7 separate regions of the Homo sapiens genome follow, and all the other regions are linked to region 1. A link means that fine-mapping ties the variant in region 1 to the expression of a gene that starts in the linked region. Tissue or cell type: whole blood. Region 1 holds a variant in brackets; each other region holds the start of a gene. Each region is shown on its reference strand, or each on the opposite one. Region 1 has its middle 84 kb from the start of IKZF1. Region 2 holds the start of TREM1 (triggering receptor expressed on myeloid cells 1). Region 3 holds the start of IRAG1 (inositol 1,4,5-triphosphate receptor associated 1). Region 4 holds the start of CEBPD (CCAAT enhancer binding protein delta). Region 5 holds the start of STK40 (serine/threonine kinase 40). Region 6 holds the start of CD300LB (CD300 molecule like family member b). Region 7 holds the start of MCEMP1 (mast cell expressed membrane protein 1).

Region 1 (4,368 bases):
ATACGTGACCTCCATCCTCACAAGAACCTGGCAACCAAGTGGCAACCCCATGCTCAGAAACAAAACTGAGGCTCAGAGAAGTTGAAGAATTTGTCTAAGGTCATGAAGCTGATAATGGAGGAAAATGGGATTCCAACTCAGGAGAGTTAAGCTCCAAGCCCTTGATTTTACCACTTGGGCCTTGTTACTCAAGGTCCAGGAACAAGTGGCACCTGTGCCACCTGGAAACTTGGTAGAAATCAGATCCTCGTGCCCCACTTCAGATGTACAGAATCAGAATGTGCATTTTCTCAAGAGTCCCAGGTTTAAGCATGTGTTCTGCCTTCCTGGGGAGGGTCCTTGAGCACTTTGGGGTCACAATTCAGCACCAAGTGGTGGTACATTCCCAGGTCAGGAAGAGGCTGTGTGTCTCTGGAGTAGAAACCCTAAGAGGCATAATAAGCAATAGTGCTTAGGAATAAGTGCTCAATTGTGATAATCAAACAGATAAGGAAAATAATGAGAAGGTGAGATTTCATGAAAGACAAAAAGACTAGTAGATGTTACACCTCTGGTTGTTTCTGAGTTTGTGAGCTCTTCGTCCATCTCTCCATCCACTCATTCATCAGAATGACTAAGGATCTAAAATGTTGGAAGGACACAGGCTGTCTCATTTTGCCTGTTTGGCCCACAGAGAGAAGTTAAAAGAGTTTGTTCTTACACCTAAGATGAGCTTCTAAGTTCAGTTACCAGAATTTTCAAGCAATGCAGAAAGTGGCATTCTGTGGTGGTCTTTAGAAAAGCAGTATCTCCTAAATCAAAGCAAGAGAGAATAAGACCACACATAAATCAAATGAAGAAAGAGTAGTGCCATCAATGATAGAGACAGACCTGAGGAGAGGGTGGTGGTAGAAAGAATCTGAATTAGAAAAGGGAGGAGAAGAAAGCCATGAGTGATGCTTGTCAAATTTGGGACTGGGCCCACACTGGCATTAAAGAGACCTGAATAGTACCTAGAAGTGTTCTGGGAGTTTTCACCATCCTGTGCTCCAATCATATCCTAATAGTTACTGATTTGGAAGTGGTACCCTGGGTCACATATGTCAATATCAATAGAAAGAAATGATTCTTATGGTAAATTCACAAAAGGATTATTTTTGGATTATAATTTGGCATCATGTGAGTTTGACTACCATGGGCTTGTTTCTGAGAATGTGATCACTTCAAGATGCCCTTACAAAATTGATCCTCTCTATTCTGAAAAATTGTAAGCCCTTGACCTGGCTTACTCACCTAACTACCGAGTGGCCCAATCAGCAGGTCTCCTTTCCTGGCATGGCACTGTAACCTCCTCACCCTGGATCTCTCCCACTACTTTCTTACAATTCAGTTAAGGGATCACCCATACCCACATGCTCACTGCCTCTCCCACAGTTAGTTCCTGAATCTGTTTTGACTGAGGTTGCAATTACTTAAACTTTTGCAACCATCCCCTTCTCTCTATTCAACAGGCAGAACCTAATATCATCACTCTTATTACGTGGCTAACCAGGGAGCTCCTGTTCTGTGCCTCAATTACCAACTCTCCCTGTCCTGTGCATGCCCTAGTCTATGGAAAGGACTTTAAGTGCCCTTTTCTGTCTCCATTTAGTCCTCCAAATGCCTTGCTTTCAATATTGAAGTCCAGCTTCTGAACACCCTACCAGGTGGCAAGGCTCCAAGAACCATTTTTTTAAGTGGTTCCATACTGCTTGGCATCATTTAGCCAATATGCTCAGGGTCTACACTCCATCTACCACTGGGATCCCATCACCACCTGCCTACCCCACTTCCACTCCCACAGCTGACAACTTTCCCTGAACAAGATTGAGATTGTTGTGCTCTTGGACACTTGTGCCCAGCCTCCCCTGCCCTGACAGCATCCTTGCCCTGTGGGTTCCTCCAGCCTCCATTTTCTTACCCCAGTGGGGAGACTAAGCACCACCTATGACTATCTCTTTACTTCATTACGTGGCTGGAGATGGAGTTTCTTCTGTAAATGGCATCTGACCTATCTCAAGATAGAGGAGCCCAAAGGAGTGATCCGAGTGAGTGAAGTGAATTAGTGACAACTTCATGCAAAAAAGTTTGAGACACGTCATGGAGATGAATTAGGGAAGAGGTAGAGGAGGACCTCCAAATAGAGGAAATGAGGTAACACTTGCAGG[G/A]ACTGGGCAACCACCAGCTCAACAAGGGAGGGGACAGAGGTCAGCCTGTGGCAAGGAGCTCCCAGCCCCTCCCTCTCTGGGAAGAAGCAGTGGAAGCACCTTTCCTCCAGTTCTGCTCTGGACTCCCAGCAACAAACCGTCATGATCTGGGAACTTTGCACAGCCAAGGATGAAATGTCAGCCCTCAAACCTATGTCAGAGCTGCTGTGAAAATTGGAAATAAGAAACTTATGATAGGAAATTCATTTGCATGTACTATTTTACTTTTAACCCAGAATGATAGCTTTAGGCTTAAGCCATCCTATATCATCTGTATGAATTATTTCTTAATTTTCACTGAATGTTCAAAAGTAGAGTCATGTTTAATCATATAAGCACAGAGATGCATATACACACATATTCATACCTGCATGGGGCAGGGGAGTGTGTGTGTGTGTGTGTGTGCATAAACACAAGTTGCTGGGAGGAGATGAAATGAATAATGCCATACACTCACAACTTAAAAAAAATTGGGAGTAGTAGTATTTTGTTTCTCAGTTATTAATTCCAGTTAATGTAGTGATTAGAAAAGGAATCCACAAACATTTACTGGAATCTAAGTTCAGCCAAGCATAATGAGACTGGCTCATGTTATTTTTAATAGGCTTTTCATAGCTCATCCCTTAAATATAGAGAAACAAAGAGGTAAGAGAAATCAAGTCTATTCAAAGGCACATTCCATCCATGATACCAAGATTACAGCAGTTCTCTCATGGCTATAAAGCTTTGTTCCTGTCTCTTTAGCCAATTCAATAAGTAAGCTCACAAATGGGATAAAATAGATTAAGGAAGCCCTAAATGTAAGTGTCAAAGATAAACAGAAAACATAGTATACTCTTTCTTGCTCTTTTTGCACTGTTGTGTGACTTGAAACATTTTCCCTAGTTAGTTAGGAGACTTGGAATACTTCCAATCTGCCCCTACTCCTTGCCGCTTATAAATTCTTAACTTCCTATTGATACCAAAGATATCACAAGAAAACAAATCAATATATCATATTAATATAGATATAAAAACCTTCAACAAAATACTAGCAAGCCAAATCCAGTAACATATAACACAAACTGTATACCATGTGTATGCATACCAAGTGGAACTTATTCCAGGAATTCAAGGTTGGTTTAATATCTGAAAATTAATTAATGTAAAATAACATATCAACAGAATAAATGATAAAACCATATGATCCTCTAAATTAATGCAGAAAAGACATTTGACAAAAATCTAACCCCCTTCATGATAAAAACACTCAAAAAGCTATGAAAAAAATGGAAATTTCCTGAGCCTAATAAAAGACATCTATGAAACATCCACAGCTAATTTAATAGAAAATGACTTATTGTTTTCCCCTAAGATCAGGAATAAGACAAAGATATTCATTCTCACTGCTTCTATTCCACATTGTACTGGAAGTTCCAGCCAGAGAAATTAGTCAGGCAAAGGAAATAAAAGGCTTTTCGACTGGAAAAGAAGAAGTAGAACTATATTTATTTCCAGATGACATGATCTTATATATAGAATATGCTACAGAGCACACTAAAAAAATAGAATTAATAAATGTGTTCAGCAAGGTTGTAGGATATGACACCAATATGCAAAAATCAGTTGCAAATCTATACATGAGCAATAAACAATTTGAACGTTGTTTTAAAAATTTCATTTACAATACCATTCAAAAGAATAAAATACATAGAAATAAAGTTAACAAAGAAGAACCAATATTTCCATGCTGAAAAATCACAAAACCTTAATTTAAAAAAAGAGACATCAATAAATAGGAAGACATACTATGTTCATGGATTGAGAGATTTAATACCATTAAAATGAAAATACTCCCCAAGATGATCTATAGACTCAATCCCTATCAAAATTTCATCAATCTTTTTTGTAGAAAATGAACAGTCAATCCTGAAACCCACATGAAATTACAAGGGACCTTGAATAGCCAACCAACCTGAAGAGAAAGAACAGAGTTGAAATGCTCACACTTTTCATTTTCTTTTTTTGTTGTTGTTCTTTTTTTTCTTTTTTTTTTTTTAGACAGAGTTTCACTCTTGTTGCCCAGGCTGGAGTGCAATGGTGCAATCTCAGCTCACTGCAACCTCTGCCTCCCAGGTTCAAGCTATTCTCCTGCCTCAGCTTC
Region 2 (4,368 bases), not on the chromosome of region 1:
TCAGCTGGACACACAGGGCTCTCTAAGTTTGCTGAGAGACTGTAGCTTACCCACTCAGGCCTGGGGTACCTTCCCCCATGGAGCACCAAATAACAGGCTAGACAGTGCTGCTGGGTCTACTGTGTGGGTCACGGTAACACTAGTACTGCTGTTATTAATACCACACACTTAGGTCCTTGCAGGCCTGGTGAAAAATGACAAGTGCTTACCCTTTCATGGAGCCCCCTGGCATGCCCACCCCAGGATAGGCCAACAGATCTGCCTGACCTTAGGAAGACTCAACTCAGGGACTCACAAGGAGTTTAAAGGTGAAATCAGTCTTGAAAGCCAGTTCTTCTGGGAGCAGACTCCAGTTTCTAGGGAAACCTCGGAAACAGACCTCTTGGGCAACTCCCACACACTCCAGTCAGGAATGTGCCTCCAAGAGACTGTTGACCAGAGGCTGAGTGTTGTCTGAAACCAAGCCTGGTTCCCTCATTTGTTCACTCACTCATCAGACTGGCTGGGAGACTTCTCTATCATAGGCACTGTGCTGGGCTCTTTGGAAGACACACAGACTCCATCCTCAAGTTGCCACCACTGAAGCCCTAACCTCTGAAGTTAATGTTACAGATAAATCTCTTTTATTTGCCAGCTCCCCAGGGAAGGTGGGAGTTACAGGTGACTGAGTTTGCAAACTTGCCTGTCTCTCACAGAAGGAAGGAGACAATAAGAAATGAAGGCTGCTGAGCTGTCTGTGCACAATTGCAAGAAGGGAATTCCTTTGAATATGTTAATTAAAAGGGTAGCAAATACTACCTATTAAGTATTATGTGCTAAGGGTTTTTAAAGACTATCTTATTTAATCTTTATAAAGTAAAAAGTTGACACCATTATTCTCCCCATTTTATAGATAAGGAAACTGAGGCACAGACAGATTAAGTGATTTGCCCAAAGTCTCACCATAGTTAAGTACTAGAGCCAGGATTCAAACCCAAGGACTCTGGTTCCACCTAAAGCACTGAGCTACATGGTCCAACACAGTCTGATAGGGATTAGAGAAGTCCTGGCCCAAGTGTGAATAAGTATCCAGTTGCAAGGAGCATTGAGGTTAACCCCTAACCTATCCCCACAGGGCACAATGAAATATATACCACTGGTTTTCTCTCACACAGGTACATAACCTTCAGCCCTCTGCCATCTCCCAGTTCTCCTTCAGAAAAACATGAATCAAACACAAGGAAATGCACTTGTCCATGAGGAGCTAACTCCCTTCTGCCCATCTAGATTATCACCCCAGCTCCAAGAAGACCCAGAGCAATGTCTGAGCACAGGCTCTTCAAGGCAGTTGTCCATGACTTTGCTCAAAGTAGAGAGCCCAGGAGGATACCTCTCCCTGATTTTTCATGCCTTCCCAAGGCAAGCCTCGCTTTTAACTCATATTGACACTTTCCTCCTGTTATTCATAAGGATTAGGAGGAGGAGTGAATAAAGCCCGCATGCTTCTGGTTTGGGTGCAGATGTGAGCTGTGCGGATCGTAAGAGGAGACACAAGAAAGAGCTGGGGCATGCGCCGGCTCTGCTGAGCCTCAGCAACTGTGCCCTCCAACCCCAGCGTGCCATGGAGAGCTGGGATGATCACCTCCACCAAAATGAGCACCAGCCTCTTCTGGTCACGTCTGTGTCCTCAGCAGTAGTATATTTGCTGTCCCATAGTAGACCCCTGGGAAATATTTGTTAAATCAATTCTGTCTTTTGGGTTTAACAGATTGTCAACATCAAACACATCATGATGGAATATAAGAAAAAAATTTCAACATCAAATAAACTTATTGTAGATCATGCCATGATGAGATCTACTCTATCATTATTCCCATACTAGGCTTTGCATGTCTCTAACAACATCGACATGCACAGACATCTTTTTTCCCTGACTCTCTCCTTCTTTTACTTTTGTGTGCAGACACTGCATGTTCTCCCAATTCTGGGTAGAGCAGCACGGTCTGCCATAACTACTGGTTGGCTCTATCTTGGATGGCCCTGTGCTCTGAAGCTTCAACAGAAAAGGGCTCCCCGAGATCCTGGACCAAACGCCTCCCCTGCTCAGTCCTCTTCCTTGTCTTACCTGAGACAAAGAGCATCCACAGCAGCCCCCAGAGCCTGGTCTTCCTCATCCTTCCTGTGCACCAGCTCCAACTGCTGCTGAGGGCTCCCGGGACAGCTACAAGGCACCACAATGACCTAGAGGCTTCGGAAAGTTGCACAACAGGATATGAGGCCATTCCTGGGAGTCACTGAGTTTGGGTTCTGTTTCATCACCAGTTGCTCTGACTCCTGACATCAACACAATAATACAGAGACCAAGACTCACTTCTCAGTTAAGTTTCTTTGAACTCCAGTTTTCCTTTCTGTGGTAATAATGACAATTACCTTTCAACCTTACAAAATCTAAGGGAGAATGATACTTGAATGTAAATCAAAGTAAGGCATTCATATTAGGAAGGGGAACAGAGGGCCCTTTGCTCTCCAGAGGCCCCCTCTCCATTCACATCCAGTTTAGTGTAGTGAAGAGAGTCAGGCCCACATAGGGAGAGGCTGCGACAATCGTATCTCATCTTCAGGGTTTTTGTGAGAACATGTTGCTTCATCCTGCCCTGCTCAGCCCCGTGGGTTCTCTTGGCTTCTGGTGACCTGGGGTGCACCTCCTCTTCATCACCAGGAGGGCCACACCCTGCATTTGTCCTTCAGCATTGCCACAGACATGGCCTGGGAGCTCACGGGGGTGTAGGGACCCCAGAAACAATTTGAGAGGACACTGCCACCACCCAACAAGAACAGACTTAGATTTAAAAAGGAAACTTGGTTCAAGACGCTGAAGCAAGAAGAAAAAATCCAGCAGGTTTTGTACTAGAAGCAAGAAAAGACAGATTTGACAGTGTGAAAATCAAATCAATAATGGAGAGGATTCACTTCAGAAATATTCCCAAATGTGAAATGAATAAAGACATTTAGAAGAGCTCAGAAATTTAAGGGAGGACAAATCACAGAATTCCAATCTACAAATCAGAGATGTCCTTAAAGCATAAAATGGAATGGTGGATCACAAGCAAGATTAAAAATTTTATCTTAAAAAATATGCTTTCCAGGTCTGAGAAGAAATCTAAAATTGGAGGTTGAGAGTTCAACATGGGCAAGGAAAAAATTCACAAAGTGAGACCTAGAATAGGAAGTTTCCAGGTGAAAATTTTTAAATTTAAATAAAAAGATTCCTACTGCTAAATAAACAAAAAAATAACTTGGTTTCTTCAAAGGAATTGAAATAATCAGGACTCAGATTTCTTCTCTGAGTAACAAATACCATGAGAGAGTGGGATGAGGTATAAAGAACATTATGACCCTAATATTTTACACCCAAATTGATTGCTACTCAAGTATAGGAACAGCTAAAAGGTACTATCATGTCTGTAAATTAAAACAAACAACAACCAAAAAAATTTTCAAGGCTAACTTTAATTTTTTTTATTAAAGCTGTTCAATGCAGCAATTTATAAAATATAGAAAATAATACATAAACTTAAATCATGTTATTACACTTTATAGAGATCATTTGTAGTGGAGATTTTACTATGTTTATTTTTTGTTCTACAAATAATGTCGGAAAACAGGCTTCAAACATGCTTGAACTGAAATCTGCTGGCCCCTCCTTTTGCTGTACTCAAGCAGTCCCTAAAGAGGAAAAATAGACAGAAAGCTCTTGACATTTTCTGACTCAGAGAGGAGCCTACGTGACTTCTGTGGCGATGAGTCAAATTAATAAAGTTTATTTCAGTGAATAAATCCCCTCCTTACAACAAAATTAATATTCCACACTTAAATAATAGCTATTTCACATACTTTCTACATTTTTGTGTCTTCATATACTTTGTGTGGAGGATTAAGCTCCTGGAAGATTAAGAGGGAGCTTTGAACTAAACAGTCCAAGAAGAATTTTTAATTAGACTTGAATATCACTGGAGGCTGATTGCTCCTTCACATTTTCCTAACTACGGACAGCACCTGCATTTAAATTAGAATGAAGTAGAATGAGGTCTTTCTCCACTTGTCTGATCTATTTGTGTACTTGAGGTCAACAGTGCAAATAGTCACGTGTCACTTAATGACAGATACATTCTGAGAAATGTGTTGCTAGGTGATTTTGTGTTGCAGGAACATCATGGAGTGCACTTACACGAACTTAACATGGCACAGCCTACTGTACACCTAGGCTGTATGGTATAGCCTATTAATATTAGGAAGGGGAACAGAGGGCCCTTTGCTCTCCGGAGGCCCCCTCTCCATTCACATCCAGTTTAGACAAATACCTTTCAACCTCACAAAATCTAAGGGAGA
Region 3 (4,368 bases), not on the chromosome of region 1:
TCTGGGTGCTAGACACACAACGGGTGAGGAACGGGATAAGGTCTCCGCCCTTGCAGGGCTCAGTCTGCTCCTCCAGGAGGTGTGGGGTGCTTCTGTCCACCTCTGTTACAAAGACTTAGAGGAGAAAGGCAGGGCTTTTTAGAAAGCTGAGGACCCATCACGTATAGTTCAGCCCATCAGTCAAGGAACCTAGCTTCCTCACACAGACCCACAGAACTCCTCATCCCCAAACCATGAGCCTCCTCAGCCTCCCAGGGATTCAGTTTCAAGTAGGTTTCACATGGCCCTAACTTCCTCACCCAAGATACTATTTAAATTCCCTGCTTTGTCACTTGGTGGCTGGGTGAGCTTGGACGAGTCATTTAACATCCCCTAGCCCCACTGTCCTCACCTGGAGCAGTAAGGTAAAGATACATCCCCCATGGCATTCTGTGAGGGGGCATGTGAAATCCCTCGTGGAAAGCCTCAGATGCACCATGTTGCAAGGGGGCCGGTGATTCCCCCGCTGCACTCTGACATGGGGTCCCAAGCAGACGGGAGCTGACCATGGAGGTCAAGAGCAGAGCCTCCAGAGACCATGGCCTGGGGCTGAGCATCAGCTGTGCAGTCTCTCTGTGCTAAAGTGTCCTCCTCTACAAGACCAGGGTGGAAAGAATGACCCCTGCTTTGTAGAGCTGTGGGAGTCATGAGTTACTGTATGGGAAGGGGAACAGTGTTCAATACATAGTAAGAACCATGTGTTTGCTGTTTATTTTCTTTCAGAAATATATTTATGGGGATAACCAATCATGTAGTAGCAGCTAGCACATGGTTATCCCTCCAAGATGATAAAGGATACAGGAATGCCTCCCTTACCTCCAAGCATAAAGATAGGTGCATCCGCTGTGAATATAAACAGCCACCCACCAAATATGCATGCACACACACACACATACACGCACTATGGAATCATGGACAGTACAAACATGATAATGACAACTGTTTTGTCCATTAGGTCAAAAATCGCAAGACACAATTGGAGGCAGCATCATACCCTGGCATTCACGTCTGTGTTGAGAGGCATGGGCACTGGAGTTAGAGTCATACAAACTCATACAGGGTTTGAGTCCTAGCTCCGCTCCATCTTGGTGGAACGACCTTAGGCAAGTCACTTAACCTGAGTTCCCTCCCCCATAGAACTGTTGGGGTAGGGGAGTGCAGGGGGATGGGCAACTCCACCTGCCTCACTAGCATGTCATCGTCCCTCGGTGGGGGCAATACAATCCTTGGCAGGTCCTGACTCCTTTGGACCCCCAGCCTCACAGTCCCAGGAAGCTTCCTCCTTTTCCCTGCAAAAGACTCTGCTCAGACCAGATTTACTTCCCTGTGCCACCCCAGTGAGCAGCCTGAAGAGTGTTCAGCAGCTGCCGAGCTCTGGGAGGCTGGAGTGCTGGCCAGGGGTCCCAGACCCCGGGCTGCTGTTTACTCAAACTGCAGAGCCTCTATAGCCTTTACAACTGTTTCCTGGGCAGGAGGGAGCAAGACAGCTGGGCCTCTCTCTGGCCTCTGGCTTCCACTGGCTTTTCCTTTGGAAAAAGCCAGTTCAAATGGTGCTCACTCTAGGAATCGCTTCAACTCGGAGCCCTGGAGGTGAGCAGGGCCGGGCACGGGCCGGGCACATACACCCCCTCTAGGGAGCAGGGAAGGGCACAGGCCAGGGGAAGCTGGAGACAAAAGAGGAGACAGGGACAGAGATAAAAACAGGGACTGTGACAAGAACACAGGATGGGAAGGGCAGAGACAGAAATAGAGGCAGGCTTAAGGATCTAGACAGGTCATGCCAGCCCAGGTTCAAGGCAGAGGGGCGTAGGGGGACAGAGAGAGAGACACAGGAAGCACAGAGGGGAGAAAGCTCTGCTTAGCAGACTTGCCAAAGCTGAAGACCCCACTGTTGCCACAAAGGGGCCCACAGGAAAGCTAGGGGTTGCAATCGCCTGTCAGGACCCACATTTTCACCCTGAGCTGTGCACACTTTCCAACGGCAAGCAAAAGGAGCACAATCTAGTTAAGTTAGGACTGGCAAGATTCACTTCTGATTTAAAACTTAAGACAGCAACAATAAAGATACTCAGCTGAAATGCCACCCAACAAAGCCAGCTCCCCTGGAAAGTTAAAGTTTAGCACCCCCATCCCAGCACCCTGTACCTTTAAGGAAGAGAAGGTTCCCTCCGCTTCCCAGCCGAAGAGGCAGGTTATTCTAGGATATAGGGGAGGCTTACCTAAAACTGAGTTATTCTCCTTTCCTCCTCTGGCCAGCCTCTCTTCACTCTGGGGAGCTTTTACCATTTAAGGTCAATGTTACATCTGGCTCCGGAGCTCAGAGCCGAGAAGCCTCTGGCTGCAGAACCTCGGCCGCACGCCTCCTCTGAGAGGGGCTGGGACTTAGAGCCGAGAGCTCCTCTGGGAGCCCCACTCCGGCCTGGCTCGGGGGATAATGGCAGGGAAAGCCGACCAGCTGGCCTCAGGGCTCAGGGCAGGCTGGGCCTTTGGGGCAGTCGCTCACCCTGGGCCCCTCCGATGGGTATCCACACAGCAGATGGCAGTCCCCATGGCAACTCGTGCCACTGGACACTGTCCTGGCCGGACGGGAACAAAGGGACCCTGCAGATCTCCCCACCCGCCTGGAGCCTCCAGCAAGCATGTGAGCCTGGAGAAGACCCTGGGCCAGCGCCAAGAGAAACTGGGAATGGTTCCTGTCCTGGGGATTCGGGGGCAGGGGCTGCTCCCACTGCGTTAAACTCTTGGGATTGCCAGAGAGAATGGCCTGGGAGATTCAGCTACTCCCAGACTTGGCACCAGCCCCAGGGATGTCAACCTTGCTCCTCCATTAAACAGCCTGTGGTCTTAACATCGTGGAGCCTCAGTCTCCTCATCTCTAAAGTGGAAATAATAATGATAATGCCCGACTCACTAGGTAGTCAGGGGATTAAATGAGATGTTAGTCAAGTGTTTAACACACTGCCAGCATCTCATAAGAGCTAGATCAGTATGAATGAGCTTCCTGCCCCTGCCCAGGAAATCCATACCCTGTCCATACACACTCTTCACCTGCCTTGGGTATAGGGCCTACCCAAGGCCAGGATCATGGAGCTCCAAGCTGGGGGCAAGCCACATGGGGACTTCAGCCCCTTCTGTGGTTAGAGCAGCACAGAGAAACCCTAGGTAAAGTTGCTAGATAAATTACAGGACACCCATTTAAATTTGGATTTCAGATAAACACAGGACATACTTGTATTAAAGACTGTTATTTATCTGAAATTCAAATTTAATTAGTCATCCTCTATTTTTGTTTGATAAATCCGGGAACCCTAGCTTTTGGCCATCATTAGCCACCCAGAAAACATTCAGTAGTCATGGTAGAGAGCACTAGGGATTGGAGCTCCCAGGCCTATGGCCTCAAGCTCTCCTGGCAAACACAGTCCTTATGCTCAGCTCCTGGCCACAGATCAGTTGTGCAGCAGTGGCAGATGCTCTCCACTGAGCCTGGCCCACTGAGCCTCCATCCCAGCACCTTCCTCAGGCATGTGGTTCTCAGGAAGTCCTGTCTCTTCTGTGTGGTTGTTGTAAGAGAGATCACTAACAGGGGTGCAGCGCATGAAGTCCGCTACCCTCATCAATAATTGTTTTTTGTAAATGAAACCAGAGGAGGCTGTCTTGGGTACTAGCCATGCTTTCTCTCAAGTGTCCACACCTGTCCACATGGAGGTACAGGCTCCCCCCACAACCCCCGTCCCCCACAAAGCCACATGGTGGTAACTACTAGAATTGCAAGTATATGGTCTAGAAGGAACTGACCAAACTCTTCAGTGCTGTTTCTCCAACTTCAATGTGCATTAGAACCCCCAAGTGTGAAGCTCCTTGGGTTCCTCTTTCAGAAATTCTAATTCTATGGATCTGACATAGACCCAGAAATCTGCATTTTAGTGAAGGCCCTTGGGTGATTCTCATGTACTTGGTCCAAGGATCCCACATTAGGGAATGTCGCTTCAAAGGTTGATCTTGTGAGTCCAGCAGCAGGCACTACAGGGACAATCAAAATCAGAAGTTGAAATGGAACTTAGGGCTGGCTGTGTGTGTGTGTGTGTGTGTGTGTGTGTGTGTGTGAGAGAGAGAGAGAGAGAGTTCAAAATCATATATCATATTGAGTACCTACTATATTCCTAGCATTAGATTAGATGATTTACATAAAAGCACTCTATCCTCACAAGTGTCTACGCCTTTCCTTCAAAAGGAAACTGAGGCTGGAAGAAGTAAAACAACTTGCTTGATGTTCCACAGCCAGTAAATAAGTGACAGCACTGAGATGTGAATTCAGGTGGTCTGTCCCTA
Region 4 (4,368 bases), not on the chromosome of region 1:
TCCACCACACACACCTGTTTTAATTAGGCTGGGTAATGTGCACGGAGAGCAAAGATCACAGACTAAGGAGCAGTCAGTCGGATATTTGCTTTGCTGGCAAAGATTTAAACCAAGAATTAATTATCTTTGGACACTATAAAGATTTTGTTCCCTTCCTTATAGCAATATAATCATGACAGGCCATGGTTAACTACATCAGATACACGTAGCAGCCGTGACCAAGACATGGTGCCCTAATACCAAGTGTTCTTGGGTTAAAGGCAGGCGGCTTTTTAATTAAATCTTAAAGCACTGCAATTACTGGCAAGACAGCTGGTCTTAAGCAGTTTTGTGACTGCCCTTTTCATCCACTACATGACTATTCCGGCCTTTCTGGAGCACTTTTGAAAATCTACTTGACTCTGTCCACAAGACTGAGGAAAGTGAAAGCAAAGTCCCGGGAAAGCGGGAGATGATTCAGCCCGGGGTTCTGCCCCTCGCCCCTCCAGCAGCCTCTACAGTTAGGGAGCTCTTGAACTGTTCTCAGCAGGGGCCCCCAAAAAGTCAACCCTTCCCCAGGTCTGCGTTCTTCGGGAGAACACCTTCTGCTGGAAAGCTGCTAGCTTACCTGAGCTCAGCCGTGCTCCACCTAGCTTAGGCAAGTTAAATAAGGCCAGGAGAGAGCCTTTAATGCGTTTTAAAAGCGACAGACCCTCTCTCCTGAGTAGCTCGGGCCTGCGCCCCATCCCCCCGCCCCCCCCACACACACACCTGGCGCCCGGGCTCCCTGGTGCTCGCTGGCTGCGGGTCCGGAACGCACCCTTCCCGAGCCGGGTCCTGCGCCACCGGCGGGCGGGCGGGAGTCACTGCGAATATAGGAAGCAGGGGCGATTTCAAATGCTGCTTTATTCTTACAAATACTGTAAAAATTAATATAAAAAAGTGAGCATGCTCAGTCTTTTCCTCTTATCTACAATACAAAGGGTTTGTCTGAAAAGTCTGGTTTTTTTTCTTTTTACAAATGTACCTTAGCTGCATCAACAGGAGTAAGATGTAGAAAAAGCTACCATTACAAAAATAATTTAAGGGAAAATAAACACGTTTAGCTTCTCTCGCAGTTTAGTGGTGGTAAGTCCAGGCTGTAGCTTCTTTGCGCTCCTATGTCCCAAGAAACTGCAGCGGGCACCCGGCGGCTCTGGCTGCGCCAGGGCAGGGCGCGCTCCGCTCCGGGCCGTCGGGTCTGAGGTATGGGTCGTTGCTGAGTCTCTCCCGCCCCGGCCGCGCGTTACCGGCAGTCTGCTGTCCCGGCGGCCGGCAGGAAGGGCGGGCTGGGCAGCTGCTTGAAGAACTGCCGGAGGCCGGCCAGGTCCCGCGTGAGCTGCTCCACGCGCTGGTGCAGCTTCTCGTTCTCAGCCGACAGCTCCACCAACTTCTGCTGCATCTCCTGGTTGCGCCGCTTGGCCTTGTCGCGGCTCTTGCGCACGGCGATGTTGTTGCGCTCGCGCCGCTGCCGGTACTCGGGGCTGCCGCGGTCCGGGCCCCTCTTGCCGGCGCTCTTCTCCCGGGCGGGGCCGGGCGCGGGGGTCTGCCTGGGGCTGCTGCGCGGCGGCTCCGGCGACGTGGGCGGGGTGGGCTGCCCTGCGGCCGCCAAGCTCACCACGGTCTGTGCGCACGCGGCCACCTGCGCGGGCAACAGCGAGCCGGGCGCGTCGCCGTCGCCCCAGTCGGGCTCGCGCTTGAGCAGGCGGGGAGCGGCAGGGCCCGGGCCCAAGGGGCGCGCGGGGCCGCCGGGAAGAAGCTCCAGGGGCCCCGCGCCGCCCGCCTTGTGATTGCTGTTGAAGAGGTCGGCGAAGAGCTCGTCGTGGCACAGCTCCAGGGTGGGCACGGCGGCCATGGAGTCGATGTAGGCGCTGAAGTCGATGGCGCTCTCGTCGTCGTACATGGCGGGGGCGGCGGCGCCTGGCTCGCCTAGGGCCCCTGGCTCGGCCCCGCGGCCCGGCTTGCCCGCCCGGCCCGGTTCGTAGAAGGGCGCAGGCTCCGCAGGCCAGGGCGCGCCGCGCGCCGGGCCGTCCAGGCTGAAGAGCGCGGCGCTCATGGCGGCGTCGGGCCGGGCTCTGCGTCCAAGCGAGGCTGTCACCTCGCTGGGCCCAGCCCCGCCGCCTTTTCTAGCCCCGGCTGACGTGCACGCCCCGCCCCGACTCCGGCACCGCGGGGGCGCCCCGGGGCCGCGGGGGAAGGGGCGGGGGCGCCCTGGGAGCCCCCCGGAGCCGCCCCGAGCCTTCCCGGGGCGCGCCCCCTCTCAGTTCCTCCCCGGGGCCCCCTCCCCGGCCCTGGGGACCCCCAGCCCACGTTGCAGGAGGGTGCCCGCGCTGCTGCTCCCTCCCCGGCCCGGGCCGGCCTGCGCTGCGCTGCTGGGAATGACACTCCCTCTGCCAGCACTCCAGGGCCTTCTCTTCTTCCTGTTTGTGGGCTTGGAACCTCCTCGCTCCTCGGGGTTGGGAGTGAAATCAAAACCAGGACTTGGCCGCAGCGCGCGCGTCCCAGGCCGGCTCCTGTCGCCGGAGGGCGGGGGGTGGAGACCCGTGGGAGAGGACCCGCGCGTCCAAGGACGCCCCCCGACCGTGGGCACGCGCGTGAGGCCCTCGCCCCGCGCCTCCACCGTGGGACCAGATGCGGGAAGAGGCGTGGGGGACCAGACGTGGGGACAGCGGCGGCCTGGCAGGCGGGGAGGGCTGCCCGCACCGCACTCGGGCGCCTCGGGGAATCCGGGCCGGTTCTCGCTGCTCTCCTCGGAGGTCCCGGGTCCGGCCGGCCCTGGGGGTCGAGGCCCAGAGACGCGGCTGCTGCGTCCTGGCCGAAAGGCCGACGGGACGCTGTCGCCAAAAGCAGAGCAGATGGGGGAGACGCGGTCACGACACCGCGTCCTCCGCCGGCTCCTCGAGGTGCGGGCTCTCCGGCCGGACGCTACTCCCCGACCCCGCAGACCCGGGCGTCCGCCGCCAGCTCCCGCGCCCGCGTTTCTTCCAGGTCTACGGAAGCAGTGCCATCGTGTGGCGGCATCTTGCGTTAGACCTGTTTTTAGTTCCAGGCTCTTTCCCTGTTAAATATTCCAAAAAAGTGCCTTGAACCTAAAGTAGTTGGGTCCTTTTTGGGAAACAGGTAAGATCTACCAGTAGCTATAGCAGGGTGCAGATGGGCCTCGACTCACGATGGGGTTACATCCCGGTAGACCCATCGCACACTGAAAATGTCTTAAGTAAGAATGGGCTTTGTCATGTGTCCTGCAATTTGAGGCAGGCATTTCTGGTCAGACCCATTTATTATTTTAAATTAAAAATATGGTTTTTTTCAGCCGAGCACAGTGGCTCATGCCGGTAATCCCAGCATTTTGGGAGGCTGAGGTGGGCGGATCACTTGAGGTCAGGAGTTTGAAACCAGCCTGGTCAACATGGTGAAACCCCATTTCTACTAAAAATACAAAAATTAGCCAAGCGTAGTGGCGTGCGCCTGTAATCCCAGCTACTCGGGAGGCTGAGGCAGGAGAATCGCTTGAACCCGGGAGGCGGAGGTTGCAGTGAGCCGAGATCGTTCCATTGCACTCCAGCCTGGGCGACAGAGCGAGACTCCATCTCAAAAAAAAAATTGAGATGGGATCTCACAATATTGTCCAGGCTGGTTTCAAACTCCTGGGCTTAAGAGATTCGCCGGCCTCAGCCTCCCAAAGTGCTGGGATTACAGGCGTGAGCCACCATGTCGGGCCCAAATCCATTAAATCACTATCGCTAGTCACACCTGCTCCATGTCGAGTCTCTTCCTGCGCAGGCCTCTCACCAGATCTGCGTCGGAACACCAAGCTCTACTAACTGCTGTGCAGTTTCTGCAGTCAGTTCCAGAGGTCATTTCTAACGTTGCACTATGGGATATTTAATAGGTTTCCTAAAGAACAAACATATTTCTTTAGAGTTACTCAGAGGGTACACAATGATGATGTCACACAATTAATTACCTATTAAGACTGAAATCCAGCAATGCATAGAGTGTGGACTTACGCACATCCAGAAAAAGTTCTAGCACAAATTGTTTTGTTCTCATATATTTCAGAAGCCATAGAAACACTATTAAAGCCCTCCCTAATCACTTAGGGAATGCAAAATCAATATTTATAAGGGATAACCATATCCTCCTAAAAACAACTCAGAGACTATTTTCAGTGAGATGATTTACTGATTCCGATAGTCAATATAGTTACATTTTATTTTTATTTTTATCTTTATTTTTGAGACGGAGTCTTGCTCTGTCGCCAGGCTTGAGTGCAGTGGCGCGATCTCAGCTCACTGCAACGTCCGCTTCCCGGGTTCAAGCGATTCTCCTGCCTCAGCCTCCGGAGAA
Region 5 (4,368 bases), not on the chromosome of region 1:
GAGTGCACTGGCTTGATCTCGGCTCACTGCAACCTCTGCCTCATAGGTTCAAGCAATTCTCCTGCCTCAGCCTCCCGAGTAGCTGGGATTACAGGCCTGTGCCACCATGCCCAGCTAATTTTTCTATTTTCAGTAGAGATGGGGTTTCACCATGTTAGCCAGGCTGGTCTCGAACTCCTGACCTCAGGTGATCCGCCCGCCTCGGCTTCCCAAAGTGTTGGGATTACAGGCATGAGCCACGGCGCCCAGCCACTACTAGCTTCTTTAGACCACATTTCAACCATTTGTTTACAGGTCAATTTCCCTTAATTAGACTGTATGCTCCTTGAAATAAAAATAGATAACATTTATTGAATTCTTATTACGTGGCAAACATGGTTGTATGTTTTACATGTTAACTTTTTACTCTTCATAATATCTCTCTCTGTTATCATCCTTGTTTTATAGACGAAGACACTGAGGCACAGGGAGACTAAGCAATGTGCCCAGGTACACACAGCTGGAAAGTTGCTGAGCCAGAATTTGAACTCAGGAAGTCTGGCTCCAAAGCCTACTCTTAACCACTATGCTGTCTAGCACTTGCCTCTAGGCAAGGACTCTTGTTGTGGTCATGTGAGAAATGAATGAATGAATGAATGAGGACTGTCTAGATTAACCCAACCAACAACTTGCACAGCACGGCCATTAGGAAGCACTAAAGGAGCTCACAGGCACTGTTTACAAACAAGATTATTTTGGCCCTACAATTACACATTCTGCTCTTCCTTATCTCACGCAAAACTACTCAAAGAGGGAAAGGCGCCCAGCCCAGTATGCCTACCCTCTTCCCCACTGGTTCTCAAAACCAAAGCAAAGCCAACCGGTTTCCTCCAGTGACTTAAAACAGAGCAAAGTCTATCCTGCCACACAGAGGGCGGCTGTCATCTCTTCCTTCCGCTAACAAAAGGGCTTCAAACCTGGGGATTGGGGTGGGCAGAAAACTCGGCATCAGGAATCCGAATGTCCCTACCTAACTGGCTGGAAGGCGGGGCCAAGTGGCGTGGGAATGGGCGGGCCTGACCGGCTCGGCAGGTGAAACACTGACCACAGCAAGCTCTCCTTGGAAAAGGCCGGCCAAACGTGGCCTTGGCAAGCAGGTAGCTGTGACTCGTACCTGAACGCCGCCCGGGATATGAAAATTCCCCAGCAGCGGTAGCGCCCGTGCCAGAGTGAGGGCTCTTGGAGGAAGCCCTGGCTGGCCCTCCCTGGGGACTCGTTCTAACTATCAAGTCACCCTCGGGATTAGGAGGGAAACACGGAGAGGCAGAAGGTGTCTTTTTGGAAAGATCTGGCTGGATTCACACGCCGGTTGCTTCACTCACTGGCTGGGTGACTCTAGGCAAAGCTGGCAGTGCCCACTTCCCAGAGCTGCGGCGGGGACTGAAGCTCCCGCGGCCTCCCGGTACCCGGCGCGAGGCAGCCCTCGCCCCTGCCGCCGGGGAAGGGCAGAGCCCCAGCGGAGGAGGGGGCATTCGCCGGGGCCATTTCTGCTGCACTCAGATGGCTTCAGGCTGTCACTCCGATTCCACCGCCGCGGCCGCCGGGGCCCGCCCCGCCTACCCGCAACCCCCACCCGGCTCCCCGCTCCTGGACCCCTGCCCTCACCTTCGCCGGGTGGTCAGAGCTATTCGCCCATAGTCCGTAGCCCAGAGCCGGGGCTGCTCGGCTCTCCCTCCCGGGGGGCCGGGGCCGGGCTGGAGGCGTGCGAGCCTCTCACCGCCGCCTCCCAGCGCAGCCACCCGAGCCGCCGCCGCCGCCGCCGCCGCCTCCCTCCATGGCTGCGGCGCCGCCACCTGACAACGGAAGTGACGCACCGCCCCCCTCCTCCCCAGCCTTAGCCGCGGCCCCGCCCCCCCGGGCCCCGCCCTCCGCCTGCGTCTCCAGCCCCACGGCTTTCGGATTGGGGCGCCATCTTGACGATGGGCGGAAGACTTCAGGCAAGAGGCCAGAGTCCGATTGAGGATTGGTTCAGGGTGGGGTCTGGGCGAAACCTGTTACACGATTGGAGGCCGAGGCTCTAATGGGGCGGTACTTACTGCTGATCTATATCTGCGGCGAGGCTGGGACGGAGGCACCGCCCCGCCCGACCCCACAGAACCTCGCGGGCCCTACACTCCCCCTGCCGAGGTTGAAGTCCCCAGCGGTTGGAAGATCGGCCAATTGTAGTGTATTTATCAGAAAAGTGACTCATCCTTGATCCTCATTTCCCGGTTTGTGGAACTCTGTGAGGAAAGCCCTGCAGTTAGGCTCAATAAAAGACAGAAATTCCTGTCGCAGCGCTCATAATTCATTTCCCTCTAGGTCTGTCGCCTTTGTAGAAACCCCGAGGATGGCAACCTTCAACCTGGAGATCCCTGAAGCCTTGACCAGGGAGGTTTACAGTGAAGCGTTCCTATTAGCGACTACAGCTATCTAACCTCAGTTCCTCCTGCTGCAGTTTCGGTCCCTTTCTCCTCCTCCTCCAGCAACCACGCCCTCCATGAATCAGCTTCTTGCACCAGCAGATGAGCCCTTTAAAGGGATTGCATCAGGCAAGTGACTCACTGGGGCCCTCTAAGAGCCTGGCTTCCCTCCCTTGGCATGCAGAAGCAGCTAGAAGGGCTCAGTGGCAGCAGCACCAGCGGCCGTAGCCCCACTCCCTTGTCCCAGAGGTGTGAGTCAGGGTGTTTGCTGCTTATGATGTCTAACTCTTGGCTGTCTTTCCAGCTGTCCCCTGGGTCACTCTATATCCATGTGTGGGCACACGTGTCTAAGCTTGTGTGCACTGCTGGGTTTTCCTAGGGTGTGTGGCCACTTGTGTGTATGTGCATTTGTCATCTCCACATAGGCAGTGCCAGGACACAAGAGCTGATATGAGTGAAGTCTGGCTGCCTCTACCTGTGTCCTTTGTCTCTGAATGCCTGGTGCCCACTGAGCTGCTGATAGGGCTGACTAACAAGAGTAATCAGGACAGCTCCCACCGTTGTGCCACACTCTGCATGGAGCACTTGAGACAGTATTAGGTAGGAGGCTGTTTACAGCTGAGGAAGCCAGTGCTCAGAGAAGGAAATTAATGTGCCCAAACACACACAGCTAATAATGGCAGGGCTAGGATTCAAATCAAGTCTGATGGATTCCAAAAAACTTGGCTTTGAATCCCTGCTGCATCACTTACAAGCTGGGTGACTATGTGCAAATTGCCCAATCTTCCCCTTCTGTCCAAACAGGGATAACGCTTGGGGGATCACTGTGAGGACTCGGAGTTATAGAAACAGCTTTTTGCAAGACCCAGCGAGCACTCATACTCATCTCAGTTGAAGGGCTTCAATGAGGTGGGTGACCAAAAGACAGGCATAAAGAAGGCCCCAGCCCAGCAAGCTCCACTCTCTGACAAAACAAAAAGCCTAGGGATTCCGGAAGCCCTGACTCTGACAAAAATGAGTTCTGGGTTTTCCAGAGCTCTAATTATCAGCTAGATGAATCACTCTGCGCTGACACCACCATTCCTACCCCCAGGAGACTCTCAGCTGATTGAAAATCCAGGATTTTAACAAAGGAGAGGAGGAGGAACAGAAAGCTAGGAGGAGAAGAAGTAATGAATAGAAACCAAAGGTGCCAGCCAGAGGAAATGAGAAACTGTCATCAGGACACTACCATGAGGAGAACGCTGGGACACACACACACACACACACACACACTCACACTCACGCTGACATACTCTTGCTGGCTCTCCAACTCTAGGCTTACGGCAGACGGTGCTGCCATAACAAAGTGACGCCTGTCACAACAGCATGAGATGGTGGCTTGACAAGGTATAGGCAGATCTGCCTATCACAGAAGGAGGGAAAGAGACCTTCAACCCCCAGGGGCTTCCTCAGGCTTCTGAACCCTCGTCTCCATTACTGGTTGGCTCTGGCTTCTCTTTGTCACCAAATCGCAAGGCCTAAATCTGGCAAATTTTGAGTGTCAGACCTACACCCTGTGGCTAGGTACCACCACTGTGGTGAACAAAGGCACCTCTTATACTCTGTCATCAGTATGATGCCAAGAGTGCTGGGAAACAGAATAGCACAGCAGTTAAGATCATTGAGTTGGAGTCACACAGACCTGAGTTCAAATCCCCATTCTGTTGTTCACCTTGAGCAGGCCACATAACTTCCTTGAGCCGGTTTGCTCAAATGTAAAATGGTGCTATTAATATATGGGGTTTTTATAATGATATAATAAGATTACTTTCAGGGCTGGGCGCAGTGGCTCACTCCTGTAATCCCAGCACTTTGGGAGGCCGAGGTGGGTGGATTGTCTGAGGTCAGGAGTTCGAGACCAGCCTGGCTAACATGGCAAAACCCC
Region 6 (4,368 bases), not on the chromosome of region 1:
ATCTAAAAGTCTTTTCGGGGCCGGGCACGGTGGCTCATGCCTGTATTCCCGCACTTTGGGAGGCCAAGGTGGGTGGATCACCTGAGGTCAGGAGTTCAAGACCAACCTCACCAACATGGTGAAATCCTGTCTCTACTAAAATTACAAAAATTAGCCAGGCATGGTGGCAGGCACCTTAATCCCAGCTTCTTGGGAGACTGAGGCAGAAGAATCACTCGAACCTGGGAGGCGGAGGTTGCAGTGAGCCAAGGTTGCACCACTGCACTCCAACCTGGGTGACAGAGTGAAACTCCGTCTCAAAAACAAAAAACAAAAACAAAAACAAAATACCCAAAAACATAAATTGGATTTGTCAGCAATCACTAACAGCAGAAAAGAGATGCTGCTGCATTGAACAAAGTGTCATCAATCCCAGCTTCAGTCATTCAAACTGTAAATGGCTCACGATGTAATTAGTCCCGTTTAAAAAAATATTTGGGGGTTTCTCTAACCACAGAATATGATGGCTGGAACTATTAATCAGGCTTCTATATGTTGTCAAGAGTTGGTATGAGGAACGATAGAGATGGAAATGACAGGGCAGCCGTCAGCTTGGAGCAGAGCCCCGTTGAACGGGCTGAAGGGTGGAAGTCCAGCCAGGACTGGAGTCGGGTCTCAGAACTCCCCAGCCATGCTCTTTCCTGTTGTCCCTCCGTGGACTGCTCTATCTGTGCCAGATGGTCAGTCCCTAGGCACCAGCAGAAAACTGTGTGGCCCACACACATTGCACACCCTGCGTAAAATTCTAGATTGTCCCCTAATGCCCTCTAGGTGTCCACCAAGGTTTGCCATGGAGAAGATCATCTAGCCCTTCCCACTTTCCACCTGGGTTCTTGAGAAGTTTTTTCTTTGAAAGTCTCAGCTCCTGAGCCTGGCGTGGATGGCCTTCATAATCTTGTCTTTTGTGTTTCCAACCTCATATCCAACTCGCCACCTCCAAGACATCCTGCACACTGACAGCTCCCTCTGCATGAATCCACCATTCTTTCTAAGCCTCCATCTCTCTGCCCAGGTCCCCCAACACACACACACACACACACACACACACACACACACACACACCCAACTCTCTAGAGTGTTCTCCTCTCAGCTCTGCTCCAGAGACTGACCTTCCTTCTACAAGGCACATCAAGTGCACAGCTTCGTGAGTCTTTCTCTAGTCACCAGAGAGAACTGCTTCATCCTCCGCACACGCCTCCACCAATGCCTTATTGTGTCCTGCAATTGCTCATTGTTTATGTGTATGTCTCACCCACTAAGCCATCTGGAGTCTTTTTACTTTATTTTTTTTTTGAGACAAGGTCCCACTGTATCACCCAGGCTGGAGTGCTGTGGTGCGATCATAACTCTGCAGAATTGAATACCTGAGCTCAAAGGATCCTCCAGCTTCAGCCTCCCAAGTAGCTGGGACTACAGGCACGGTCACCACGCCCAGCTAATTTTTGTTCATTTTATATAGAGACGAGGTCTCACCATGTTGCCCAAACTGGTCTTAAACGCCTGGACTCAAGCAATCCTCCCACCTTGGCCTCCCAAAGTGTTAGGATTATAGGTGTGAGCCATGGCCTCAAGCCTGGAGTCTTCTTTAATGGCCAGTTCTCCTCCTCTTTTTTCTTGATGTCCTCAGGCCCCGAAGCACACGATGTCAGTCCCCAGTGCACCTTTGTCGAATGACTTCACAAAGCCACCTCTCATTTCCCTGGATGTGGAAGGACAAATGCCCTCTGCCTCCTGCCCTGCCCCTGTCATACCAAGCGCCCAAGGCCCCAGCCCCACTCACCTGAGAGGCTGAGAAGGAGCAGAGCAGGGGGCAGCCACATGGCTCTGCCTTCCCGGCTCCTCGTCCGCCTGATCTGCAACCAGTGGCAAATGCAGATCCCAGATGCACTCTGGAAGTTCTGCCTGAGCTCTGGCTTGCACCTTCTGCACATCTAGACCGCCTTTGACTTTCTTACTCATTCACTTCCTTTTATAGAGTGGGTAGTTCCTGCTTTTAATTATTAAACGAAAGAGGTGTCATTTTTTGGCAGGGCTGCGCCACAGGGCTTAAGCATCGTCACTATGTAAAAAAGAGGAGGGAGGGGACTGTGCAGGGTCTTTAGGGTAGGGGGAGATACGTCTGCAGAAGGGGTGGGGTGGGGGGCGTCTGGCCTAGCAGGCCTTGGGTCCAAGGGGTATAACACTCTGGGAGTCAATTTCAGAGCTGTTCTATACCACAGTGAACACCCAACTCAGATGTCGGATGGGTCATGCTGGGCACACCTGAACATGCATTTGTTCAGGTGTTATAGCCAAGTGCATAAACATGCAGACTGTTGGGTCAGACAGACCTGGCTCTAACCCCACGAGCACCACCTACAAGCTGCGTGACTGTGGACAATGCAATCAACATCTCTGTGCCTCAGTTATTGTATCTATTAACTGGGCTCATAATGTTTGTTGTTGTTATAGGAGTTATTAAGAAATTATTTTAGGTAGATAGGAAAAGGGGTGCTTGGGAAGATTTTTTTTTCTTTTAAAGCAGCTCCATAAATGTTTCTTGTCTAGAAGAAAAGCCCTGGCTCTTAGAGCTGGGCAGGCAAGCTTTGATATGCAAATACAGGCCATTAGAAACTGCGTCCACCCAAACATGGAGACTCCCGCCTCTTCTTCTTTTCCCCACGTTCCTGGCAACATGGCCGCCCCTACATACACCCATGTGTGTAGAACATCATGGCGCCTGTATTTGCATATTAAAAGGCTAGGGTAGGAAGGCTAGTTTTTTCGTGGGCTACTTGAATGACATACCTGGTCAAACCAATCCCCTGGGCCCTATGCAAATCAGGTACCGCCTCCTCCAGCCTCCTCATATAACTGGCTGTTTTCCACCGTACTCGAGGTTCCCTCTTTCAGCTTGGAGCCCGCCTCCCTCAGTCTCAGAACAGGGGGAGCCTCTTCCTTCCTTCTTTCTTGTCTATTAAATTCTCCACTCCTTAAAACCACTCCACGTGTGCCCATGTTGTTTTATTCAAACCAGTGGGAGACCAAGGACCCTAGTGTTCCTCCAGTCATCAGAGCCATACCATTTTGTTGCATTGGCCGGGAATCCAAGGTACGACACTCATCGGAGTGGTAAGTATGGGAGTGAGCTTAAAATCTCTTCTATCATTCCGAGGCACTCTTAGCCTCTATTTTAAAATAAAATAAGTCAATGGGCATCCGTCAGCCGGGTACATACACTTAGTGTTGGCTGCCATACTGAAGACTCGAATGTGAGGCTTGCTGCTGAGAACACGGAGAACCCCCCAACACCCCTGGGTCATTGGGAATGTTGGCCATGTTTTAAATCAGCTTCTTTTCACGGGAAGACCTCGCCATTGTGCAAGGCTGGGAAAAGTTCTAAGGCAACTAACAATTTCTGGCCAGAGCACACCCTGGCATGATTCAAAGGCCCCTGGACTGGACCCAGCCTCTGGCGGCCCATTCTGGGTGTTGGCAAAGAATCCTCAACTATCTTGTCACAAAACTCTCCTTCCTTCTCTATCTGCGGTCTCTTACACTTTCTTTGTGTGAAATGTGTAGCGAGTTTTACAGCCTAGGAAAGTAATCCTGTTAGGCAAAATCAGGAAGATGCCCTTGCAATCTTCTAGGAACAGAGTTCTCCCCTTTCTCCCACCGTGAGGTTACTCACTACCACGTCTCTAGTGAGCACATAGTATTTCTAAGCCAACAGTGCCACCTAGTAGAAATAGAAATCCTCTACATAAAGCATATTTTTTCATGGCAAACCGCAGCTTCTTTTTGCATGATTAGAAATCAGGCTCGGCCAGGCGCGGTGGCTCATGCCTGTAATCCCAGCACTTTGGGAGGCCGAGGCGGGCAGATCATGAGGTCGGGAGATCGAGACCATCCTGGCTAACACAGTGAAACCCCGTCTCTACTAAAAATACAAAAAAAAATTAGCCAGGCGTGGTGGCGGGCGCCTGTAGTCCCAGCTACTCGGGAGGCTGAGGCAGGAGAATGGCGTGAACCCGGCAGGCAGAGCTTGCAGTGAGCCGAGATCGCGCCACTGCACTCCAGCCTGGGCAACAGAGCAAGACTCGGTCTCAAAAAAAAGAAAAGAAAAGAAAAGGAAAGAGAGAGAGAGAGAGAAAGAAAGAACAAGAAAAGAAAAAAGAAAAAGAAATCAGGCTCTAGGCCTCTTCTTGAAATGGGAAAGTTCTGCCTTTAGCAGTTAGGAGTTAAGAAGTCTTCCATAGCCAAATTTTAGTCTCAATATTGTCCCATTGGCAGGAAAATGGCCATTCGGTTCCTACATTCCTTTAAGGCACCTATTCTGTCTCCGATTAA
Region 7 (4,225 bases), not on the chromosome of region 1:
CCGGGTTCAAGTGATTCTCCTGTCTCAGCCTCCCGAGTGGCTGAGATTACAGGCGCCTGCCACCACGCCCAGTTAATTTTTGCATTTTTAGTAGAGACAGGGTTTTATCATATTGGTCAGGCTGGTGTCTCTAACTCCTGACCTCAGGTGATCCGCCCGCCTCAGACTCCCAAAGTGCTGTGATTACAGGCGTGAGCCACCACACCTGGCCAGAAAAAAATAAAAATAAAAATGTATGCCTGTAATCCCAGCACTTTGGGAGACCAAGGCTGGAGGATCAGTTGAACCCAGGAGATCAAGACCAGCCTGGACGGCATATTGAGACCCTCATCTCTACAAAAAATAAGAAAAATTAGACTGGGCCACGGTGGCTGATGCTTGTAATCCCAGCACTTTGGGAGGCCAAGGCGGGTAGATCACGTGAAGTCAGGAGTTCGAGACCAGCCTGACCAACATGGGGAAACCCCGTCTCTACTAAAAATACAAAATTAGCCGGGGGTGGTGGTGCATGCCTGTAATCCCAGCTACTTGGGAGGCTGAGGCAGGAGAATGACTTGAACCTGGGATGCGGAGGTTGCAGTGAGCTGAGATAGCGTCATTGCACTCCAGCCTGGGTGACAAGCACAAAACTCCATCTCAAAAAAGGAGAAAAATTAGCCAGGTGAAGTCGTGCCCACCTGTAATTTCAGCTACTCGGGAAGCCGAGGACGAAGGATTACTTGAGCCAGGGAGGTCAAAGCTGCAGTGAGCCATGATCACGCTGCTGCACCCCGGCCTGGGCAACAGAGTGAAACCCTGTCTCAAAAAAAAATTATTAAAAAACATTTAAAGAGACAGGGTCTTGCTATGTTGCTCACGCTGGTCTCAAACTCCTGGCCTCAAATGATCCTCCTACCTCAGCCTCCTGGGTAGCTGGGACTACAGAGCGAGCCACCATACCCAGCTACTTTGTGCCTTTTGTAACCCCAGTTTTCAAGATCAGATAAACACAAAGTGAACTAAGACACCTTCTAGACAGAGTGCGGGCATGTGAACGCATGCTTGTGTCTATTTTTCTGAGTGTCACAATGCAAATAGTATGCAAATGAGTTTGTGATGTGTGTCCGTGTGCAGACCTGTGTGTGTACATGTGTGAGAGAGAGTATCTGGGTAGATAAGCAGATGGATGGATGAGAATGAGAAACCTGGAGTTTCCAGGTGCAGAGGAAACTGTTCCTCCAGGGTTCTTTTTTGAGACAGAGTTTCCCTCTTGTCACCCATTCTGGAGTGCAATGGTGTGATCTCCGCTCACTGCAGCCTCCGCCTCCCAGGTTTAAGCGATTCTCCTGCCTCAGCCTCCTGAGTAGCTAGGATTACAGGCGCTCGCCACCACGCCCAGCTAATTTTTGTATTTTTAGTAGAGACGGGGTTTCACCATGTTAGCCAGGCTGGTTTCAAACTCCTGACCTCAGATGATCCACCCACCTCAGCCTCCCAGAGTGCTGGGATTACAGGCGTGAGCCACCGCACCCAGCCTCCTCCAGGGTTGTATAAAAGCAGGGGATTTGGGGAGGGAGGGAAGGATGTGGGTCTGTCCTCAGTCCCAGATGTGGGTGTGGCGTTCCAGTGGTTAGTTCCCGTTGCCTCACATCTGTGCTTTTCCTCCACGGGGACTTGTAGAAGTAGAAGAACTTCTTGGGGGTGGAGCTGAGGGGTGGAGCTGAGGCTGGAGGGAGGAAGGTGTGGGGGGACCCAGGGGTCCTGTCTCCAAGCCTGGTTGCTCTTACGCGAAAAGTTGGGACACTGAGGTGTCACAGCTTCTCTTTTGAAATGGAGAGGAGGTAGGAGGGTGAGGTCCATCCAGGTAGACACAGACACACACAGAGACCACAGCTTCCTGTAACATTTCCGAGTGTCGAATTCCATCTCCCGGTCTAGAGGTTTTTCTTCTTGGTCCTTCCTGAGACCTCTTGGCTCCCAAGAGCCTCTTGATCGGGGCAGGAATGAGGGTGCCCCAGGGTGCGAGAGTCGTGGATCCCTGAAAAGAGGAGGCTGCTCCCCCTCTTTCTTCCCCCCACCTCCAGATTTCCTCATCTGCCCACACCTTCCGGTGGGCGGGGACGTGTATGGACAAATTTGCGGGCTGGGGACCATGGAAGTGGAGGAAATCTACAAGCACCAGGAAGTCAAGATGCAAGCACCAGCCTTCAGGGACAAGAAACAGGGGGTCTCAGCCAAGAATCAAGGTTAGGGAACTCGAGGTGGAAGGGAGGGGTTAAGAAGGAGAGATTGGGGGGCCGGGGGCTTTTGCTCATGTCTGTAATCCTAGCACTTTGGGAGGCTGAGGCGGGAGGATTGCGTGAGCCCTGGAGGTGGAGACTGGCCTGGGCAACATAGGGAGACTCTGTCTGTAAAAAATAAAAATAAAAAAAGAAGGAGAGTTCAGATGGGAGAGGTAAGGGGTCAAAGGTGGGGGCCGGGGGCTCCTTCCCCTCCAAGATGTGTGGATGTGTGTGTGGATGTGTGTGTGGTGTGATCACTCAAACTCTCACACACCCGCTCCACTTAACCAAAAAGCAGATTTTAGCTTCTCACTCCTTATCTTTCACCCCCTACAATTTATTGAGTGCAAAGGGTTGGGTAAAACAAGATCCCGGATCCACTCTCCACACCACAGAGCTCTGAGCAGATCTCCAACCCCTCCCAGGTGCCCATGACCCAGACTATGAGAATATCACCTTGGCCTTCAAAAATCAGGACCATGCAAAGGGTGGTCATTCACGACCCACGAGCCAAGGTGAGCAGACACCCACCTGCTCACATCCCATCACCTTGGGAAGGGGCAGGTGGGCGGGCAACTGCAGGGCCCCCGGGGCTGCGTGGAAGGGAGGAAGCGATGGGGAAGGAAGAGGTGACAGCTGTTGACGTGCTAATGAGGTCTGTTGATGATGACAATGTTGGGGAATGCTGGAGAGGGGGTCTGTGATGGTGACGGTGTTAGATCGCTGAGGGTGGCTGGTGGTGGCAGTGTTGTTGACGATGATGACAAGCTGCATGACCACAGCTGCTGATGGTTTTGAGAGGAGCGAGGTGTCCATGGTGTTAGAGACAGTGAGGATGGTTTGAGTGGTGGTGCTGGCCCCTCAAGGTCACTTTGCTGCCTCTTTGCTCCAGTCCCAGCCCAGTGCAGGCCGCCCTCAGACTCCACCCAGGTCCCCTGCTGGTTGTACAGAGCCATCCTGAGCCTGTACATCCTCCTGGCCCTGGCCTTTGTCCTCTGCATCATCCTGTCAGCCTTCATCATGGTGAAGAGTGAGTACTTCTTGGGAGGAGGGTGCTGGGGGGCCTAGACTTTCTCCCTTGTCCTTCTCTCTCTCTCTCCCTGGGTGCTTCAAGGATTTTCCTGCCCCTCCTGAACAGATGCTGAGATGTCCAAGGAGCTGCTGGGCTTTAAAAGGGAGCTTTGGAATGGTGAGCGGAGGGTCTGAGGGAGACCCGTGGGGTCATGGTGGGGGTCTGGAGAGGGATGGATGCACAGACACCCCTGTTTCATGCCCTCAGTCTCAAACTCCGTACAAGCATGCGAAGAGAGACAGAAGAGAGGCTGGGATTCCGTTCAGCAGAGCATCACCATGGTCAGGAGCAAGATTGATAGATTAGAGACGACATTAGCAGGTGCCTGTGTAGTCTCGCCTTCTATGGGGGTTATTTGTCACCAATGCCCGGAGCTGAGCTGGGGGCAGGGGATTCAGGGGAGGAGAAAGCCGGGGTCCTACCCTCCCAAAGCTCAAGTTGTGGAGGGGCGATGGGTGTTACCATCTGGGTTGCTCTGTGGGTATTGAAAGGCTCCTGGGAACCCCAAATCCATGGGCTCTGCTGTACCCCAGGGTGGGTGTGGGGCAGGGGGGGTGCTTCCAAGGAAGGTGGGGGCTTTGTTTGAGGCTCCACCGCAGCTTGACTTATCTGTTCCCACCCAACCCTCCCCGCCCCCTAGGCATAAAAAACATTGACACAAAGGTACAGAAAATCTTGGAGGTGCTGCAGAAAATGCCACGTAAGTTGGCGCCCCGACAGGAGGTGGAGGAGGGTGGGTGGGGCTTCAGATTTAGCCCCAGCTCCTCTCCCAGGGGCGGGATCTGCCTCACTGTGGGTCTCTCCCCATCCCCAGAGTCCTCACCTCAATAAATGAGAGGACATTGTGGCAGCCAAAGCCACAACTTGGAAGATGGGGCTGCACCTGCCAACG

The links. PIP is the estimated chance that this variant, and not a neighbour inherited with it, causes the effect. A credible set is the group of variants that fine-mapping cannot tell apart.
Region 2: it holds the start of TREM1, and the variant in region 1 is the best candidate, but not a certain one, in a credible set for the expression of TREM1 in whole blood (TOPMed, PIP 0.83).
Region 3: it holds the start of IRAG1, and the variant in region 1 is the best candidate, but not a certain one, in a credible set for the expression of IRAG1 in whole blood (TOPMed, PIP 0.84).
Region 4: it holds the start of CEBPD, and the variant in region 1 is the best candidate, but not a certain one, in a credible set for the expression of CEBPD in whole blood (TOPMed, PIP 0.85).
Region 5: STK40 starts here. The variant in region 1 is the best candidate, but not a certain one, in a credible set for the expression of STK40 in whole blood (TOPMed, PIP 0.85).
Region 6: CD300LB starts here. The variant in region 1 is the best candidate, but not a certain one, in a credible set for the expression of CD300LB in whole blood (TOPMed, PIP 0.78).
Region 7: it holds the start of MCEMP1, and the variant in region 1 is the best candidate, but not a certain one, in a credible set for the expression of MCEMP1 in whole blood (TOPMed, PIP 0.83).

The regions. Positions count from the first base shown.
Region 1 is chr7:50,219,032-50,223,399 of GRCh38, forward strand. No RefSeq gene overlaps it. Among named protein-coding and RNA genes, the nearest start is that of IKZF1, 84 kb to the right of the region's middle. The variant G/A (reference allele first, on the strand shown) is at 2,187.
Region 2 is chr6:41,284,503-41,288,870 of GRCh38, forward strand. It overlaps TREM1 (triggering receptor expressed on myeloid cells 1), which reads right to left and starts at 2,180. Exons shown (of 4, transcript NM_018643.5): 1 at 2,105-2,180. The coding sequence starts at 2,153. RefSeq lists a silencer at 4,165-4,254.
Region 3 is chr11:10,691,278-10,695,645 of GRCh38, forward strand. It overlaps IRAG1 (inositol 1,4,5-triphosphate receptor associated 1), which reads right to left and starts at 2,478. Exons shown (of 21, transcript NM_130385.4): 1 at 2,259-2,478. The coding sequence starts at 2,325.
Region 4 is chr8:47,736,047-47,740,414 of GRCh38, forward strand. It overlaps CEBPD (CCAAT enhancer binding protein delta), which reads right to left and starts at 2,118. Exons shown (of 1, transcript NM_005195.4): 1 at 867-2,118. The coding sequence starts at 2,074. The coding sequence ends at 1,265. SPIDR (scaffold protein involved in DNA repair) reads left to right here. Exons shown (of 20, transcript NM_001080394.4): 20 at 1-260. RefSeq lists an enhancer at 1,142-2,080 and silencers at 1,477-1,666, 2,157-2,266, 2,307-2,386, 2,477-2,946.
Region 5 is chr1:36,384,079-36,388,446 of GRCh38, forward strand. It overlaps STK40 (serine/threonine kinase 40), which reads right to left and starts at 1,846. Exons shown (of 11, transcript NM_001282547.2): 1 at 1,645-1,846. It overlaps LOC124904012 (a long non-coding RNA gene), which reads left to right and starts at 2,113. Exons shown (of 2, transcript XR_007065779.1): 1 at 2,113-2,249; 2 at 2,341-4,368. RefSeq lists silencers at 1,004-1,053, 1,354-1,423, 1,574-1,953 and enhancers at 2,160-3,359, 2,184-2,293, 2,324-2,693.
Region 6 is chr17:74,529,492-74,533,859 of GRCh38, forward strand. CD300LB (CD300 molecule like family member b) reads right to left here and starts at 1,984. Exons shown (of 4, transcript NM_174892.4): 1 at 1,820-1,984. The coding sequence starts at 1,859. LOC107985074 (a long non-coding RNA gene) reads left to right here. Exons shown (of 3, transcript XR_007065902.1): 2 at 3,056-3,150.
Region 7 is chr19:7,674,951-7,679,175 of GRCh38, forward strand. MCEMP1 (mast cell expressed membrane protein 1) reads left to right here and starts at 2,140. Exons shown (of 7, transcript NM_174918.3): 1 at 2,140-2,225; 2 at 2,687-2,776; 3 at 3,154-3,291; 4 at 3,400-3,450; 5 at 3,541-3,654; 6 at 3,974-4,033; 7 at 4,148-4,225. The coding sequence starts at 2,171. The coding sequence ends at 4,164. RefSeq lists an enhancer at 3,107-3,176.